Regions from separate parts of the Homo sapiens genome. Here region 2 is linked to region 1. The links come from fine-mapping of genetic effects on gene expression. Tissue or cell type: monocytes after Pam3CSK4. Region 1 holds a variant in brackets; the other region holds the start of a gene. All regions are shown on one strand. Distances are between the middles of the regions.

What was found. PIP is the estimated chance that this variant, and not a neighbour inherited with it, causes the effect.
Region 2: CHRAC1 starts here. The variant in region 1 is fine-mapped to the expression of CHRAC1 in monocytes after Pam3CSK4 (Quach 2016, PIP 0.92).

The regions. Positions count from the first base shown.
Region 1 is chr8:140,634,075-140,639,434 of GRCh38, forward strand. AGO2 (argonaute RISC catalytic component 2) reads right to left here and starts at 1,559. Exons shown (of 19, transcript NM_012154.5): 1 at 1,411-1,559. The coding sequence starts at 1,432. ERICD (E2F1-regulated inhibitor of cell death) reads left to right here and starts at 161. Exons shown (of 1, transcript NR_170171.1): 1 at 161-4,209. RefSeq lists an enhancer at 1-564 and silencers at 371-420, 904-1,073, 1,724-2,123. The variant C/A (reference allele first, on the strand shown) is at 3,118.
Region 2 is chr8:140,508,313-140,513,672 of GRCh38, forward strand. It overlaps CHRAC1 (chromatin accessibility complex subunit 1), which reads left to right and starts at 3,010. Exons shown (of 3, transcript NM_017444.6): 1 at 3,010-3,334. The coding sequence starts at 3,188. RefSeq lists silencers at 355-535, 2,713-3,722 and enhancers at 2,403-2,482, 2,493-2,702, 3,763-4,072.

The DNA of each region.
Region 1 (5,360 bases):
CAAGGCCTCTAGAGGCCAGCACCTGCTCCAGGACTGCGGCCCCTCCCAGGTGGAGGGGGAAAATCATTCTTCAAACTGCTGATGGCCCTCAGGGGTTGAAAAGTTGGTCAGACTCCGCCTTGTTGAAGCTTTCTAAATGACATCAGAAAAAAGACGCGACATTCGCAAGGCACAGAGCCAACAGCTCCAGCAGTGGGGGCCACCATCAACGGACCAAGGTGGGCCAGGGGGCCTTCCGGACCCCACAATTTGGGGCCGGTCTGCAGCAACGAGGGCAGCATCGGGAATGCGAGCCTCCTCGCCCGGCCGGGTAAACATAAGCCCAGAGCCCGGCGGGGCCTGCGCCGCCTGCGGCCCGGCTGGGGCCCAGCGGACAAAGGGGAGCAGGCGGTGCCCCGTCCCAGCGGCCAGGCCGGCCGAGAGAGCCAGGAGCCACGTGCCCGGTGGGAGCACGCCAAAAGCAGGAGAACACCTGACCGTTTTTTTGGCCCACCAAGGAGACCGCCTTCTACTCTGCATTTAAAAAGAAAAACAACGCGTTACCGCTTTAAGTTTTTTAGAACTTTTCCAGAGAAAGGCCGACTAGCAACAAGGGGTGCTACAGGAATCCACCTCGCCTCACCTCTCCTAGGAAATTGTAAAAGGAATTAGCACTTGAATGGGGAGGCCGGCGTGTCTGGAATGAGAACGAGCCGCGCACGCAGTTTGAGGGTTCCGGGGAGCCGCGTCCTCCCCTTTCCAGGCGACAGCCCTAACTACAGGAATTGGCCAAAATTCAGCATTTCCAGACTTTCCTTGGGAAAAGGGGCCGAAGAAGTGCCGGCAACAAGAAGGGCCACAACGGAGCGCGCCACAGACTCACCGCGGCTGGGGTCGGGACCGGCGCAGCCCCCTCCCCTCCCGCCCGTGCGCGCCCCGAGCCGGGCGCCCCGACCCGGCCTCCACCCGCTCAGGCGCTCAGGGTCAGGCCGGGCCGGGCTGCGGCGCCCCCATCCCCGCCCGGGCAGCGAGGCCGGGCCAAGCGGGGCGCTCCGGGCCTCGGGCCTACACGCGGCGGCCGCCTCGGCCCCGGCCCCAGCCCGCGGGCCCCGGGCGGGGGATGCGAGGACGCTGGGACGCGGGCCCGAGGCGCGGGAGGGGCCCAGGCCGCGCGGGGCGCCCCGACGACTCGCGGGGGCCGAGGAGGCCGGGGCTGCGCGTCCAACGCGGGGCCGAGAAAACGGCCGGCTCGGCCCCGCCGCCGCCGCTCCTCGAGCCCCCAAGCGCGGCCCCGGCTCGCCCGCCCCCGGCCCCCGCCGCCCCGACCCCGCGGCCCCCCGATCCCCGGCCCCTGCCGCCCGCGCCGGGCCCGCCAACCACGGGCAGGAGCGCGCGAACGGCCGGGCGGGCGCCCCGAGCGCCAGGACTCACCGGGGCCGGCTCCCGAGTACATGGTGGCGCCGCCGAGGGGCTCCGGGGCCGAGGGGCGGCCGCGCGCGCGCCACGGGCCCCGACGCCGCGAGCCGCGAGGGAGCCGCCGGCCGCACGATCCGCCCCGGCGCGGCCGCCTCGCCAAACAGGTTTACCCGACGCGGCCGGGGCGGCGGGCGGAGGCGGCGGCGGGAGCGGGAGCGGGAGGGGCGGGGGAGGAAGGAGGAGGGAGGGGGAGGGGAGGCGAGGCCGGCGGCGGGAGCGCGCTCGCGGGGGGAGCGGGGCTGGGCGCGCGGGCGGGGTCCGCGGCGGCGGCGGCGGCGGCGCCGGGTCTGGCGGGGCCTGGGGCGGGGACCCGGGGAGGGGCCCGGAGACCTCGCCGGGCGGTGGGAACCGCGGGCGGGAGCGGGGACGAGGGCCGAGGGCGGCGCGGCCCGTGTGGCGCGGGGGCGGGCGCGGCCCCGGGGACCCTTCACTGCCACCCAGAGAAGCCGCGTCTTCCCGACGGGGAGGAGCCGGGCCCCCCGGCTGTGCCGCCGGAGCCGGAGGGGAGGCCACGCGCCCCCGCTTTCCCCGCCGCCCCCCGGTGGGGGGCGCAGAACCCTCCCACCCTCAGCCCCTCGGCCCCCAGCCTGGCTCTTTAAGTTACTACAGAAACACGGAGGTCGGGAAGCTCCCTCCCAGCCCGGAGCTTGAACTTGAACGCGGCCGGCCGCTCGCGCAGGACCACACCGCCACCTCCCGGCGCGGCCCCAGAACCCAGATAATCCGTTTAAAGCACTGAGAAAATCTAAGAAGTTTTTAGTAAACTGTAGCTGGTATCAGGGATCAGATCAGCGGACACGCCCATTCCAGCAGTCAGGGGCCTGCTCGGACCGTCGTGCACCTCCGAGCGTTTCTGTCCGGTCCCTCTGGGTCCGTCTGGTTTTCGGAGGCTTTCCTGGAAAAGCCAGCCTGTGGCTACCTCCTTTCTCCCCTAAGTGATGGAGGATTAGAAGGCAGAGGTTGACCCACAATCTAAAGTGCCTGGTCGCCTTTTCCCAGATTTCCCGGAGCATTCCTTCACCCCGTGGCATCGGCTGTCTGCATATGGGTGCAAGGCCCTGTTCCGGGCGGAGAATAAACAGGAGTTCTGACTGACAGGAGCTCCGCAGCCAGCAGGGTGGTCACTAGTTCTCTGCAGTCTCGGAGGACAGCCCTGAAGAAGGGCAGGAGAACCAGCACTTCCTCCGAAAACTCAAAAGGACATCAGTCTTCACCAAGTTGCCGATACAAAACGTGCTCCTGAAATGTGTAGTAATGAACACCAGGAAACCTGGGTAGGAGTGTGCATGGCATTCTTCATCACCGCTTGGACTGCATGGCACTGAATACCCACGGAGAGCAGGATGGAGAAACAGTGTGCTCATATTCACAGGATGGAATCTAGCCATTCACAAAAATTCCAAAACAGGCAAAATTAAACTGCATTCTTTAGGGAAGCATCATTAAGTAGTAAATAATTGACAGAAGGGCAAGAAGGTGCTTACTCTAAGTGTCAGAATGGTGGATACAGCTGGGGGTGAGAGGGCTGTGACCACAGCAGGGCCCCTGGGGGATTTGGGGGTGCCAGGCCTGTTCCTTCCTGCAATGGTGCCCTTTGGCAGCCATCCCTTAAACTGCACTTTTACTTTATATGCTTTTCTGTACCTTTACTGTAGTATTTCA[C/A]GGAAATTTTTAAATAATCATGAATGTTACCACTTTCCTATTTATGAACCATGCAACCTCATCAATCTTCCCAGTTCGCAGATGCCCACCCTCTCTCTCTGCCCCTGTCTCCTTCACATATCCCCAAAACTCGTTTTGGCCCGAAATCCCTGAGGCCCAACTGCCCTGCTGTCAGCGACTGCACGCCTCAGCAAAGGCCCAGAAGGCTCTGTCATCACTGGCTGCCCTCAGCCCGCCTTCAGCTCCTTTGAGCGCTGTGTTGGGGAACTTTGTTGCAAGGATTTCGTTCCAGAAGGCAAGATAATGTCTCTGAGGGCTTCATTGTGTCACTTCTCTTTGGATGGCGGACACCGTGGCCCTCTGCTGGCGGAGGGGTGCCATTGCTGCCTGCCCCATCTCTATCCCCAGGGCCCATGCAGTCACTGGGTTCGCCCTCTGGGGCACGGGGTTCCCTCTGCTCTTTTCCTAGATAAGCCCATTCTCTGCAGGTCTCTACCCTCCACACCTGTGTTCAGGAATTCAGCCCGCTTCCTGCAGCCCCATCCCTACCCTCCTCCCAACCTGCTTTTCTTCTGGTGTCCCTCACTCAGCATGGCTAACAGATCCACCACCCAACGGAGCTGAGAACTGCAGTCCCCTCTGCCTGTTACCTCTCCTGCCATTAGTGAACCTGCTTAACTCATCTGACTGTGCGTCTCGGTGCTTGCTGTGACATGTCTCCAGCCCTTGCTGCTCTGTCCCCCAGACCCACGTCCCACACCCGGATGGTGACTCAGCCGACTCTGGGTCTTCTGGACCCAGTGCTTCTCCCTGATACAATTCCTTCCTCTGTGTTTTAGGATCCTGATGCTTTGATAAGACCGTGGGCTCTAATCACAGCCAGGGACATTTGCAGCAGCCTGGCCTGCAGCTCTGCACACTGGGTGCACTCAGTCTAAAGCACCAGCTCCCCATGAGAGAGAAAGAAGGGGTGAGGGGAAGTACAGAGAAAGCTCCTGAGGCCACAGGGCTGACAAAGCCCTCGGCTTTGGGGGCACTTTGTTTCTTCAAGACTAAAATGCAGGCAATGGAATAAATCATTTGTTCCTAAAACATGTTCTGCACATGATTAAAGCAGCTTTGGGAAGTCAAGTAAATTGGGAAGCACTGGATCAAACAATGATAAATAAGTTTATTGTCTGCAGGCCTTCTCAGAGCCTGTAGCAAGGTGAGAAGAATCATGCTTCTACAAAGAGGAAGGAGGGCATGAGACAGTATGCAACCTGTCCCAAACCCATTTAGCCACAGAACCCTTTTTTCACGAGGTACCTCAAGGTTCCGTGGAGCATAATTTAGGAAACACAGAGGTAGAGGTCTTCTATGATCCCTTCCAGCTCTAATAGTCTATGATTCTTTGAGTAATATATACTTTGAGACAGGATCACCAAAGTGAAAGTGTAGTGGCGAAAACACAGCTCATTGCAGCCTTGACTTCCCAGGCTCAAGTGATCCTCCCACCTCAGCCTCCTGAGCAGCTGGGACCACAGGTGCATGCCACCATGCCTGGCTAATTTTTAAAAACTTTTGTAGAGACAGGTCTCACTGTGTTGCTCAGGTTGGTCTTGAACTGCTTGGCCCAAGTGATCCTCCCACCTTGGCCTCCTCAAAGTGCTGGGATTACAGGCATGAGCCACTACACCTGACCTTATTTTTTTTGTTTTTGTATTTTTCTAGACAGGGTCTCACTCTATTGCCCATGCTGGAGTGCAGTGGTGCAATCATAGCTCACTGCAGCCTCCTGGACTTAAATAATCCTCCTACCTCAGCCTCCCAAGTTACTAGGACTACAAGAGTATCCCACCAGGCTCAGCTAATCTTTGTAGAGATGATGTTTCACCATATTGTCCAGGCTGGTTTCAAATTCCTGGGCTCAAGTGATCCACCAGCCTCAGCCCCCAAAGTGCTGGGACTACAAGTGTGAGACACTATGCCCAGACTGGTTTTTTGTTTTGTTTTGTTTTTTAATTAAAAACTAAGCAGGTGGCTCACGCCTGTAATCCTAGCACTTTGGGAGGCCAAGGCAGGTGGATCACGAGGTCAGGAGATAGAGACCATCCTGGCTAACACGGTGAAACCCTGTCTCTACTAAAAATACAAAAAATTAGCTGGTTGTGGTGGCACGCGCCTGTAGTCCCAGCTACTCGGGAGGCTGAGGCAGGAGAATCACTTGAACCTGGGAGGCGGAGGTCGCAGTGAGCCGAGAT
Region 2 (5,360 bases), 130 kb before region 1:
AGAGGCAAGGCCGAGAGGGAGAGGGAGTCTGCAGCTCCACCTCCAGCCTGTGCAAACTGCCAGGAGTCGGCTCTGCATAAGGCACAGTGCCATTTGGTCATCACTCAAGAACCAGTGTGAGCTTTTAAAGTGGATCTGCTCCCTTCAAAACTTTTTTTTTTTGAGAGTCTTGCTCTGTTGCCCAGGCTGGAGTGCAGTGGTGTGATCTGTGCTCACTGCAACCTCCACCTTCTGAGTTCAAGTGATTCTCCTGCCTCAGCCGCCAATGCAGCTGAGATTACAGGTGCTTACCACCATGCCCAGCCAATTTTTCTATTTTTAGTAGAGAGGGGGTTTTGCCATGTTAGCCAGGCTGGTCTGGATTTGTTTGTTTTTGAGATGGAGTTTCTCTCTTGTTGCCCAGGCTGGAGTGCAAGTGGCGTGATCTTGGCTCACTGCAACCTCCGCCTCCCGGGTTCAAGCGATTCTCCTGCCTCAGCCTCCTAAGTAGCTGGGATTACAGGCGCGTGCCACCATGCCCGGCTAATTTTTTGTATTTTTAGTAGAGACGGGGTTTCGCCATGTTGGTCAGGCTGGTCTCGAACTCCTGACCTCAGGAGATCTGCCCCCCCTCGGCCTCCCAAAGTGCTGGGATTACAGGTGTGAGCCACCGCGCCCGGCCAAAAATAAAATTTTTGTAGAGATGCTGCCCTGTTATGCTGCCCGGGCTAATCTCAAACTCCTGGGCTCAAGCGATCTGCCTGCTTCAGCCTCCCAAAGTGCTGGGATTACAGGCATGCACCACCTCGAGTTCAAAATTCTTCATTATTTTCCATTACTCTTGGAATGAAAGTCAAACTTTTTACCCAGGGCCAGAGCCGGTCCCACCTACCTTGGTAACCACACCTCCCGTGCTCTCTGCCTCCCTCACTAAGCTCCAGACACACTGGCTTTTCAGTTCCTCAAACTGCCCAGGCATTTTCCTCGTCAGGTGTTCTCCCTAGAGCCTGACTTGTCCCGAAAGCTCATCTTGTCTCAGTCTTTCTGTATGAGTGGCTCCTTTTCTTTCTTCAGATCTGGGCACAAATGTCACTTCCCAGAGGGGCTGCCCTATCACTCGCACATGGTTTTGTTTCCTTCGTAGCTTTCAGCATTGGAGGTGTATTTTTTTTTTTTTTTTTTTTTTGAGATGGAGTCTCCCTCTGTCGCCCAGGCTGCTGGAGTGCAGTGGCGCGATCCCGGATCACTGTAACCTCTGCCTCCTGGGTTCCAGCGATTCTCCTGCCTCAGCCTCCCGAGTAGCTGGCATTACAGGTGCCCACCACCACGCCCAGCTAATTTTAATAATTTCAGTAGAGATGGGGTTTGACTATATTGGTTGGGCTGGTCTCGAACTCTTGACCTCAGGTGATCCACCCACCTTGGCCTCCCAAAGTGCTGGGATTACAGGCGTGAGCCAAAGCGCCCGGCTGGAGGTATTCTTACTTATTTTTCAGTCTCCCTCAGACCTGAAGGTCAGCTCTAAGAGGGCAGGGACCATGGCAGCCCTGCTCACTGGCTGTACCCTTGTGCCTAGCAATGCCTGACATGTATTTCTGTGCTCAATTATTTGCGCCAGGACCTCACGTCACAGTGGTGAAGAAGACACTACACTTAACACGCTCCAATTCAAACCTCTGCCAAAATGTGCTCCCTGTCTCAGTAAAGGGCTCTTTACCAAGGCCTTTCTGATATCTCAGTAAGCTGTGCTGATACTCCACAGCAGCTCCCTCTTGAAATCAGACCCCAAACCCTACCACTTCCCATGATCCTGGCAGAAGTTAAGTTGGTGGCCAGGCGCGGTGGCTTACGCCTGTAATCGCAGCACTCTGGTAGGCCGAGGCGGGCGGATCACGAGGTCAGGAGATCGAGACCATCCTGGCCAACATGGTGAAAACCCGTCTCTACTAAAAATACAAAAAATTAGCTGGGTGGCGCGTGCCTATAATCCCAGCTACTCAGGAGGCTGAGGCAGGAGAATTGCTTGAATCGGGGTGTTGGAGGTTGCAGTGAGCCGAGATCGCACTGCACTCCAGCCTGGCGACAGAGCGAGACTCTGTGTCAAAAAAAAAAAAAAAAAAAAAAGTTAAGTTGGACCCCTTACTCTTCCAAGGGCCTCCCCACTCATTCAGAGCGAATTCTGCGGTCTCCGCGGCCTTCCCTGGTCTGGCCCCTGACCATCTCCTGCCTCTCTCCTCCCAGCTGCTGTCCCCTTGGTACTGCCGGCCTCCTGAGGGCCACGTTCCTGGGTTCTCGTAATCATCTTCTACCTGGTCTCTGTGATTCCGGCCTTACGCGCACCCACGCCCTCCCAGCCGGCAGCTGCAGGGATCCTTTTAAAACTGCCCGGGACTCCACTGCTCAAACCCTACCACCACTTCCCATTTTCCTTAGAAAAAAAAATCCAACAGGACCTAGCCCCGGGCTGCCTGTCAGACCTCGGCGAGCACGCCAGGCTCTGCACACCGTCTCTCGGAGCAGTCCCGAAGAGGCCGTTCCCACCAGACTCCGGGACCTCCTCAGGGCAGCTCTTCGTCCTCCACCCCGCAGGAAGGCTCTTCTCCCAATCACCCCGCGGCGCAGCAAGCCTGGCCCCGCCGCATCGCCCGCGCTGGACTCTGCTCTTCCACCGGTCGCCTGGCTACCGGCGCAGGACGCATCCGCTGTCCGCTTGGTCGTCCCCCCTGGACTTTGTGCTTCAAGAAAGCGTCACTTTTTGCCGACGGCGGCACGCCCGGTCCTAGTACAGCGCAGGCGCTTAACACACAGCACCCAGCCACGAGGCCCGGAGTCAGAGGGCTTTGCTTGCCCATTCACAGAGCCCTCACCCGCGGATCAAAGTCGTATTCCGCGACCGCAGCCCGGAGACTCCCGGGAGCGGCGCGGTGCGCCCCGCCCCCGCCAGGCTCTCGGCTGCCGGTTCCGCGCCGGGCCTCGCACTCGGGGGCGGTGTCCGAGCGTCGGCGCATGCGCAGATCGGGGGCGCGAGGCCTCACGGAGCTCGTAGTTTCCCGGACGGGCCGCTCCCGGCCTCGCGGCCTCGCCTCCCCACACTACAACTCCCACGGGGCAGCGGGCGCGGCTCCCCGTACCCACCAGCTGGCCGGGCAGGGCAGCCACTTCGCGGTCGGGCCCGCCGGCTGCGGGCACCCGCGCGACGGGCGGGAAGATGGCGGACGTGGTCGTGGGTAAAGACAAGGGCGGGGAGCAGCGGCTCATCTCGCTGCCTCTATCCCGCATCCGGGTCATCATGAAGAGCTCCCCCGAGGTGTCCAGCATCAACCAGGAGGCGTTGGTGCTCACGGCCAAGGCCACGGTGAGGGGGCAGGGCGGGGGTGTGGGCCGCCCTTACCCCTCGCGCCCCGCCCCGCCGGGCTCTGGGCACTGCCCAGTCCCCTTAGGCCCGCGCGCCGCCGGCTGCTCTTGCCGGGCTCGCGCGCGCCCCGCTGTCCCCGTCCCACGCCGGCGCGCGCTTCGGTGCCCGCGCGCCCCCACACTTTCTCGCGCGTCTTCGCCCCGCCCACCCCTCGCCGCTCCCTCACGTTCTCCAGTTTCTTCGCCTCGCCTACCGCGCGCCTCTCCCGCCCTTTGTCGCCTTCCTTCGCTCCGCCCGCCCCTTCCTTCCGTGCGCACCTTCGCCCCGCCCACCCCACTGTCCTCCCGCCGTTTCTCTCGCGCTTCCATTCGGCAAACCCGTAAGCTCCCGCGTTCCTCTGCGCGCCTTTCGTCCCTCCCACCTGTGCGCTCACGTCCTCCCTCGCGTGCGGCGCTCAGTTTCCGGCCCTACCCGTGGGCGTCGGCGCCTAGTGGCGCTCTTCTCATTTGGGTTCTTTGGGGGCTCTTTCACCCGCGACTCCCTACTCCCGGCCTGCCTTTTTCTTGTCACTGGACTGCTTCGTGCTTTGAGGGCCCTAACTCCTCCAGTGTCCCGTGGGAGGGGCAGCCGGGCGCTTCACCCGCGACTCGAGGCTCTTTTCCCGCGCGTGCGGTGCCAGCTCCAGCGGTCCGAGGCTTTCGAGCCCTCCCGCCCGCCACAGCTGGGGCCCCTCGTCTAAGAGGCAGCACATTCCCCAACCAGAATTTAAGGAAGTCCGGGGAACTTAAGTTTTACAGCCTGCTTAGCATCCTCCTGGGTGCAAAATAGATAATTTTGTCTTTTTTTAAAAAAATTGCGTCTCGATAGTGTTAGGCCAGATGTTTTCCTGTTCTGACACTGGGCCATGTTTCAGCTACACAGTTAAATGCTTTAGCTTGTCTTGGATTCTATTTTCCAGTCCCTACTTGTAGTTAAGTATATGATGTCCCTGCAGTGTTGGACTAGAACTAAGGGAAGTGGGAAATTACAGGTTTCTTGCCCGCTTTATGTCAGAGCCATGTTTTCCTAGAGCCCAGGGAAATAATTGCATATTCAGCATTTCATCTGGGGACATTTGTATTTTCCTATACAATTTCATTCTATTGGTATTAAGGAATGAGGATTTATGCAGGCACTTCTGACCCGTTATTTTATTTTTTGAGATGGAGTTTCCCAGGCTGGAGTGCGGTGGCACTGTCTTGCTCACTGCAACCTCTGCCTCGCGGGTTCAGATGATTCTCCTGCCTCAGCCTCCTGAGTAGCTGGGATTACAGGTGCCTGCCATCACACTCGGCTAATTTTTGTATTTTTTGGTAGAGACAGGGTTTCACCATGTTGCCCAAGTTGGTCTTGAACTCCTGACCTCAGGTGATCCGTCTGCCTCAGCCTCCCAAAGTGCTGGGATTACAGGCGTGAACCATCACGCCCGTCTTTCTCATCCCTTATTAACTGAACTAGATGCATTAAAGTCAAAACCTTGAGAAAGAGGCTCAGTTCAGCCTCTGTAAAAATGAAGACTTGGCCCTGCTATAAGAACTGGGATGCAGGAGGGAGAAGATCAGTTCCGGTTGTTTCATTAGGTCTGAGGGTTGTATGTCAGTTCCTAGAATAGAAAAGTTTTGGCAAAATGTAAGCTGTGGTCACTATAGTTGTAGGTGAACCACCTTAGAAACAGTGTATGCAAATAGAAGACTAAAAAGGTATTCCTGAGCCAAATAGAATTTTTGAATGGCTTTTTGCTACTTTCTATTTTTTTTTCTTTTTTTTTGAGACGGAGTCTCGCTCTGTCGCCCAGGCTGGAGTGCAGTGGCGCGATCTCGGCTCACTGCAAGCTCCGCCTCCCGGGCTTACGCCATTCTCCTGCCTCAGCCTCCCGAGTAGCTGGGACTACAGCCGCCACCATGCCCGGCTAATTTTGTTTTTTTTTTTTATTTTATTTTTAGTAGAGACGGGGTTTCACCGTGTTAGCCAGGATGGTCTCGATCTC